Regions from separate parts of the Homo sapiens genome. Here all the other regions are linked to region 1. Evidence: fine-mapped expression QTL. A gene starts in region 1. Each other region holds a variant in brackets. All regions are shown on one strand. Distances are from middle to middle. Region 1 holds the start of ERG28 (ergosterol biosynthesis 28 homolog). Region 2 overlaps FLVCR2 (FLVCR choline and putative heme transporter 2). Region 3 overlaps TTLL5 (tubulin tyrosine ligase like 5).

Evidence for each region. PIP is the estimated chance that this variant, and not a neighbour inherited with it, causes the effect. A credible set is the group of variants that fine-mapping cannot tell apart.
Region 2: its variant is the best candidate, but not a certain one, in a credible set for the expression of ERG28 in monocytes (TOPMed, PIP 0.72).
Region 3: its variant is the best candidate, but not a certain one, in a credible set for the expression of ERG28 in monocytes after R848 (Quach 2016, PIP 0.51).

The regions. Positions count from the first base shown.
Region 1 is chr14:75,659,268-75,661,942 of GRCh38, reverse strand. ERG28 (ergosterol biosynthesis 28 homolog) reads left to right here and starts at 1,067. Exons shown (of 5, transcript NM_007176.4): 1 at 1,067-1,168. It overlaps TTLL5 (tubulin tyrosine ligase like 5), which reads right to left and starts at 697. Exons shown (of 32, transcript NM_015072.5): 1 at 556-697. RefSeq lists an enhancer at 626-845 and a silencer at 956-1,005.
Region 2 is chr14:75,613,753-75,616,559 of GRCh38, reverse strand. All of the region lies in intron 1 of FLVCR2 (FLVCR choline and putative heme transporter 2), which reads right to left. Among named protein-coding and RNA genes, the nearest start is that of FLVCR2-AS1, 36 kb to the right of the region's middle. The variant T/A (reference allele first, on the strand shown) is at 1,239.
Region 3 is chr14:75,857,059-75,859,865 of GRCh38, reverse strand. The region is part of intron 28 of TTLL5 (tubulin tyrosine ligase like 5); the gene reads right to left. Among named protein-coding and RNA genes, the nearest start is that of TGFB3, 120 kb to the left of the region's middle. The variant T/C (reference allele first, on the strand shown) is at 1,705.

The DNA.
Region 1 (2,675 bases):
CTTGCTGTCAATCCTTCTTAACTTTTCCATGCATTCATAAATACGATGAGACTGTAAATAAGACAAAAAAAAAACAGACCCCGATAATGATCAAAGATCTTCGGCGCAATAGGCAATGTCTAACAACTTCAATGGCTTTCTTCAGGGGATTCTCAACGGGATTTCTTGATCTTTCCCAAAATGCTGGGAAGCCCTTTAAGTTTAAACAAACAAAACCTCCAAACGGGAAGGGATGCCAACCTCTCCTAGGCTGCCTGCAGAGCGGGGAGAAACAGGTCTATCGGAAGAAGAGTAGAGATACTCACCTAAGGAGACTCCTCTCCCGAAAGGAATCTGCTTCTCAGCCCCACCCCCAGCTCACCCCAATCCCACGTAGGTCCGCAGATGCTCCCCCCGGGAAGGACGGGACGACCCCGCAGCCGCGATTCAACGCGGCGCGCCCGGAAGCCAACAGCTACTCCCGGGCTCTGAGCGGGAAGTCCTGCTGCAGGCGCCAGCCCGGACCCGGGAATGCTCCTCCCTAGGGTAGGGAAGCGCGCGGGCGCAGGCGTTTACCTGTCTCATCTTCCCATGGTTCGGGGCGAGCAGGCGTGGACCGCGCTCTGCGCCTACCTCCCTCCTCCTTCCCCAGGAAGGCTCAGGGCAGCCGCCGACGGCTGCTTCCCCGGTTACTACAACAACCAACAAGCAACCGCCCGCTCGGAGCCACTGCGCAGGCGCTCATAACGCTCAGCTGCGGACGCGGGCGAATGTCGTCACCGCCGCGCAGCGCGGGCGCAGAGCCCTGCCCTCAGCTGAAGGGAGTCTTCTTTTTTTTTTTTTTTTCCGCTGTTTTTTTCTCCGCCCCTAAGAGGTTGACTCCAAACCCGGAGTTCCGCTAGGTCCAACAGGAGGGCTTACGGCGTGAGCGGCGTACCTGGGGAGAGGCTTAGGCAGCGGCAACCGCTGATTGGCAGTAAAGGGGTTCACTCCCCATCTCCTGCTCGGGCGAAACCGGGACAGCCAATCAGAGAGAGTACTGACGGAAACGGCCCAATCCTGGAGCAGGGCTGAGGGAGGGGGCGGGGACAAATGGCTCAGGTGGACTCCGGGCTGGAGCTGTCCTGGGGGAGCTTGTTTGCGGCAGCGGCTGCTGCTGCCACTGCTGTGCTGGGGGCCCGGTCGCCAGGTAAGGAGAATATGGGGGAGAAGAGGGATGTAGGTGTCTGTGTTGCTTCTGATTGAGAGGATCCGGAGAGTCTGGAAAAATGGAGGTGGGATGGAAGGAAGATAACTGGAAGGCAACCTTTTGGGGGGAAAAGGTTTCGAGAGGCGATGACAAGGGGGAGCTAGGAAGATGGAGAAGGCTTGGTGAATTCAAGGAACGAAGGAATGGATGAGCGAATGAGCAGCCACTATGAGCCTAGCACTGTACAAAGAGCCTTCACTTTTTGTCATATAATTCTTACAATAGCCCTTCGGGTTGATATTTCTATCTCCATTTTGCAGATGAGGAAACCGAGACTGAAAAGTGTAAATGACTTACCCAGGGTCACACAGCTACTAAGTGGTAGGGCCAGGATAAGAATCCCTTTCTCCTGATTAAGTTTTAACAGCACACCTATGCTGGGCTGGGCTTGGCTGGGCTGGGCCAGGGCCAGGACAAAATTTGGAAATAGATGTTGTATACACTCTAAGAGGCCCTTAAGCTTTAGGGAAATTAGGTTGAGAAATTGGCAGAGCAATTCAGAAGTGCTCAGGCTCTGTCCTCATCAGCTATCTGTTGGGATTTCTAACAGATAACACTTCTGTGAAATGGAAGGCATACTTGTGCAGAAAAGTGGAGAGGTGCATCCATGCAGCTTTTCTAAACCCCGGAGGAGTCTCCTCTTGAGAGAGAGTGAGAAAATAAAGAGGATGGGTGGATCTTGGCCCAAATGATAATGGCCTGTGATGTCCAGTAGACCCTCAGTCTCTCTGATCTTCGACAGAGACCACCTTTGTGATCCAGCTCTCCCTGAAGGGCTCATCAATTCACCCTTCCTTCTCTAGATCTCTTTATTGCTTGTTTGGGGCGGGGAGTTGGCGGGGGGGGGCGGCGGTGTTTCACACTGTCTTGGGCCATTGCTGACTTTAATATCTGTCCCACTGGGTAGCAGAGAACAATACCGAAACTTGTATTGCCAAAGTGACAAAGAAAGCCTGTTAGTTTATTACCACTTCAGGCCCAAGAGGTTAACCTGACAACAGATAAACCGTGGACCAAGAAAATAATAATGAGGATGGGAAAAAGTCATTCCATTATTAGATTATTTATCTATTTTGGTTTTATTTAAATCAGACTAACTGAAATTACTACTCAACAAGAGTTGAACTAAGCCTTAAAAAAAAAAAAAAAAAGGCTGGGTGCTGTAGCTCACACCTGTAATCCCAGCATTTGGGAGGCGAGGCCAAGGTGAGTGGATCAGTTGAGCCCAAGTGGAGAGGTTGAGGTAGGAGGATCACTTAAGCCTTTGATTTCAAGGCTGCAATGAGCCATGACTATGCCACTGCATTCCAGCCTGTGTGACAGAGCAAGACCCTGTCTCAAAAAAATAAATAAATAAATAATAAATTAAAAAACAAAAAGTATGTAATCTAATTGTATTTTCCATACAACTTGAAGACAAAAGTGGATATGGTATGCTTTTCTTTCT
Region 2 (2,807 bases), 45 kb after region 1:
TAGTGCTGAGTCAAAAAAGTCCATACTCCATAAACATGTAAAATGCCATGTATCAATTAAAAAATATATATATGTATGTATCCCTTTATTGAGCCAGCTGCTTTCTTTGCACCAGAGTCCCTGAGGCTGAAGGCTTCCATCAAATTTGGTCCCTTTATGACCTAATCTGGGGCTTGCCTCATGCCCATGCTATGCTATTTTTATTTTTTAAATTAAAAAAAATTTTTTTTTTTTGAGACAGAGTCTCACTCTGTCGCCAGGCTGGAGTGCAGTGGCGCAATCTTGGCTCACTGCAACCTCCGCCTCCTGGGTTCAAGCAATTCTCCTGCCTCAGCCTCCCAAGTAGCTGGAACTACAGGATCATGACACCATGCCTGGCTGATTTTTTAATTTTTTGTGGAATTGGGGTCTCTCACTATGTTGCCTAGGCTGGTCTCAAGTGGTCTTCCCATCTCAGCTTCCCAAAATATTGAGATTACAGGTATGAGCCACCATAACTGGACTTACGCTATTTTTTTTTTTTTTTTTTTTTTGAGATGGAGTCTCACTCTGTCACCCAGGCTGGAGTGCAGTGGCACGATCTCGGCTCACTGCAAGCTCCATCTCCCGGGTTCATGCCATTCTCCTGCCTCAGCTTCCCGAGTAGCTGGGATTACAGGTTCCCGCCACCACATCTGGCTAATTTTTTTTTTTTTTTGTATTTTTAGTAGAGACAGGGTTTCATGTGTTAGCCAGGATGGTCTCAATCTCCTGACCTTGTGATCCGCCCGCCTCGGCCTCCCAAAATGCTGGGATTATAGGCATGAGCCATGACGCCCAGCCGGCCTTATGCTTTTTTAAATGAATCTCCCACTTCTCCTTTCTGCTTCAACATTCCTCAGAGACATCATCATACTAATATAGTGCTTAAGGGCTCAGGGTCAGGGGTCAGAAAGATCTCAATTCAAATCTCGGCCCTACCAGTTACTAGAGCTTGGCAAGTTAATTGACCTCTCTGTGTGTTTCCTAATCCACAAGAGGAAGAAAATACCACCTAGCTCATCGGGCTGAGGCTCACTCCCTGTCTGCAGGGTTGGCCCTTTCCCACACACTCTCACACAGCAGAGGTGACAGGCAGCAGAGGCCACTGGGACTCCCAAGATGCACTTGGTTTATTTGGGGAAGTCATACAAACCATCATCCTACCCTGGTTCTGCTTCACTTCCTTCTCTGGCTCCATCTGCGTGTCCTTCCTCAAT[T/A]ATCTTAGTCATCTTTGACTCTGCCCTCTTATATGCACTTCGTCTCAGATCCTCCCAAACCCTTCTGCAAAGTCCTCTTTGAATCTGCCCTGTCCCACTTCGGACCTTTCTGCCTTTCTCCCAGGCAACTGTGATCTCTCCTCTGCCCGACCTGCATGATGTACTCACATTCATGGTCCTTGGCGTTGCATTGACCCCACCGTCCCTGCTTAAAGAACTTCAAGGTGTCAGCCCTCTCAGAGGAAGGAAGCAGGTCCAAACCCCTCAGCTACTGTTCTTAGCCATTGATTTGGTTTGGCTCTGTGTCCCCACCAAAATCTCATCTCGAATTGTAATCCCCATGTGCCAAGGAAGGGGCCTGGTGGGAGGTGACTGGATCATGGGGGCAGTTTCTCCCATGGTATTCTCATGGTAGTGAGTTCTCACAAGACCTGATGGTTAGAAAAATGTTTGACAGTTCCTCCTTCAGACGCTCTCTCTCTCGCTCTCTTGCCTACCACCATGTAAGATGTGCCTGTTTCCCCTTCCACCATGATTGTAAGTTTCCTGAGGCCTCCCTAGCCATTTGGAGCAGTGAGTCAATTAAACCTCTTTTCTTTATAAATTACCCAGTTTCAAGCAGTTCTTTATCACAGCGTGAAAACAGACTAATACAGCTGTCTTTGCTAGTTTCAACCTTCCTTTCCAGACCCTTCTCTTCTGTATCCCTATAAATCCCCTATATTCCAGCCAGATTGAACAAGTCATGATTCCAACCTTCCCATCATCTCGTCTATACCTTTATCCCAAGTTATCCCCTTTTTAATCTTTCAGAGCCCATCACCATGTGAATTCTCTCACAGAGCTTTCCTTGACGATCCTCACTAGGCGTGATTGCCTTGCTCTAACTTCCTCTAATCTTTGGGTTGTCAGTCATTTTCCTGATACTTGCTAGTCTGGCGCTTACTCAATACATGGTTGTTGAAAGAATGAGCTGCAGTTAACTGGCATGTCAGGAAAGCACCATTGCCACTGCACATTTGTCATGTGAGCCCAGAACTGTGGAAAGATGTGGTTGGAAATTTAAGTCTAGACAAGGTTCTCAGAGAAAGTTTGATACTTTAAAAAGCATGGTTGAGGATCCTTTTAAAATAAGAGCCTCATAAAAGATACATTGAGGTTCAATCTAGACTTTCACACATTGGATTACTGTAAGCCCATCAACCCAAATGAGCAATTTTAAAGCATTCAGTATGATGCTGTCCTTGCCAAAGGATGTTTTACATGATACAGTTATTAGGTAAATGTGTATATCTACATACCTCTATGCACACTACCAATGATTTTATGGCCTAAAGATTAATCTGAAGTTAAGTTCACAGAGTAGGGCAGCTGAGGAAAACTTCAGCTGCACAGACAACTTGGGAGAAAGTGTTACTATGTAAAGGGGCATGATGGGTTTGGATGTTGTCCCCTCTAAAGCTCATGTTGAGGCTGGGTGTGGTGGCTCATGCCTATAATCCCAGCACTTTGGGAGGCCAAGGTGGGTGGATCATTTGAGGTCAGGAGTTTGAGACCAGCCTGGCCAAC
Region 3 (2,807 bases), 200 kb before region 1:
GGTTTGCAGTATGCTAATGCTATAATGATTGACACAGCGGAGGCCAGGTGTACCATAACTTGGCCTTTCCTTGATTTCTGGTGCCCAAGTTTATATATCTAAATATTCCTTTCTAGGCATCTCATACTTTCTATTTCAATGCAAAATTCCATCCCATTCTTGAACCTCAACGAATTCTATTTTTCTAATAATGTTTTTTCTACTCCTACCAAAAATTTTGAGGTTCAATCATTCTCTCCAAAATTTAGTGTTTTTCCTTGCTCAATGCTAAAACATAATATTGTACACAGGCCCCGTAAATATCTTCTAATTGATTTACTTTACTTCTACAACAGAGTACACAGAGCCAAGAGAATTAGCTGTGGGAAGGTTCTGTGCTTAACATCTGATTCAAAGTGAATTAGGCTGTATTTCCCCTTTACATATGTAGCAAATAGGCAACAATATTGCAAATTTTTCTAAATACTACATTCTCTTAATAGCCTATCCATTTAGAACTTTATCTTACTTTCTATATTGTACTGTGGCACTGCAGGATGAAATGTTTTTCTCTACAACTGCCCTTCCTGCAGCATACCTGCAACCTCCAGCCAATAAACATTGAAGAGCTATACTTTTCCTCTGGTTTAATATCTGTTCCATCAAATGGATACTGGTTTTAGGGAACTTGGAGGGAATCTGAAAAATGTAAAGCAAAATCTCAATGGAAGTTGCACTCTCCATAAAGATATGCAGAGGACTGTGACACTTGTATAGAGGGTGATTCCACGGTCCATCTTCCCAGCCTCCTCCACCCAAGTCCAGCCAAACACAAGCTACCATGTACAAGGATGCCCCTGCTCTTTTTGATCGTGCTTGCAACTGTGAGTGTGCTTTCAATTGTCACAATGATGGGGGTGGAGGTGTCACTGACATTTAATTGGCGGAGGTCAGGGTGTTAAATATCCAGAAATGAAAGGAATAGTCTTGTATTAAGAAAATGTGTGCTGCTTAAAATGCCAGTGGTGCTTCTGATGAGAAACACTATAAGGCCATGAAGGAGGTGCTTTCTGGGGAGAAATTATTTCTTTACAAGAAAGTCTATTCACTTCAATGGCACTTTGTGAAATGTACAGATATTTAAATCTTCAAGTATTAGGAAGATGTCAAACTCACAGTGGTGGATACACGTTTTCCAAAAGTCAAACTTTTCCTGAAAAGCTGTAATTTTATCATTGACAACAAATACTGTCAGTTGTATTCTTTGAAGTGATAGGCTCACTGTTTACTTTTGAGGAAACAACTGCCAAATATCCAAATCCAAATAACCCTAGTTTGTCTATCAGATAGATGCTCTTTCAAGTTCAGGGTCACAAATGCCTTTCCTTGAGACAACTATTACATACTAAGCAGCCGAATTGCTTTATGTGTACATCTCATTTTGTCAGACAGAATATTAAAAAGATATACACTCCAGGGTTGAGTTTAAGAAAATATTACTGCTTATGAAGGATACTCTTAAGTAGCACTGGCATTTCTTTCAAGTGAAAATGCTATGGTGGTCAAGAATACAGTGACTTCTACTACAGTTTGGTGCCATTGCCTGGATCTGTGCTAAGGCACGAGCAGTTTTACAAAACCCACCATCGTTTTTGTACCATCGGTGCAAATGTCAACACAGTGAAAAAAGTAGAAATGTCTCAGTACCACTATGAAAATGTTTGA[T/C]TCTATTGGCTTCCTCAAAGGGTCCTGAGGATCCCCCCTCCTCCCAACCTCTCCGCAGCCCCCAGGTCCAATAATAGCACTTTGAGAATCACAGACCTGCTGCAATACGTATTTTAAAAATTTAATTTGTAATCAAACCTTTTTAAAAACCTTAATATTTTCTTACATAGAAGGAAAATTCTAAGCCCGGATGATTACAAAATGAATTCTATGCCAGGCGTGGTGGCTCACTCCTGTAATCCTAGCACTTTGGGAGGTCGAGGTGGGCGGATCGCTTAAGTTCAGGAGTTCGAGACCAGTCTGGCCAACATGTTGAAACCCCATCTCTACTAAAAATATTAAAATAGCCAGGAGTGGTGGCTGGTGCCTGTAATTCCAGTTACTCAGGAGGCTGAGGCAGGAGAATCGCTTGAACCTGGGAGGCGGAGGTTGCAGTGAGCGGAGATTGTGCCACTGTACTCCAGCCTGGGCGACAGAGTGAGACTCTTGTCTCCCCCTCCCCACCAAAAAAAAAAAAAAGAATTCTATCAAACAAGAAGAAATAATTCCATCCTTTCACAAACTCTTCCAAAAAAGAGCAGAGAAAAAAAAAACTTCCCAACTCATGAGGTTAGCATATCTCTAATACAGAAATCTGACAAAGATAGTACAAAAAAAAATTACTTTCTTTTGGTCTTTTCAGACCAATATGCCTGATGAACACAGATACATAAAAAAACTTTAACACAATATTAGCTAATAAAATCTATCTATCTATCTATCTATCTATCTATCTATCTAATCAACCAACCAATCAAATACACTAGGATAATATATCATGGCCAAGTGGCATTTACCATAGGAATGCAAGGGTAACATTAGAAAAAAAATCTATCATATAATTCACCACATTAAGAGAATGAAGAAAAGTCATATATTAATACCGTTAGACATGAAATGCATTTGACAAAATTCAATACCCATTTCCTGACAGACACTCTTAGTAAACTAGAAAACATTTCTATTCAACAGCAGTAAAGGATGACCTAGCCAGTTTAAGACAAGAAAAAAAGATATTATTCATTGACAGATGATTGTTTACATAGAAAACCTTATAAACTTTA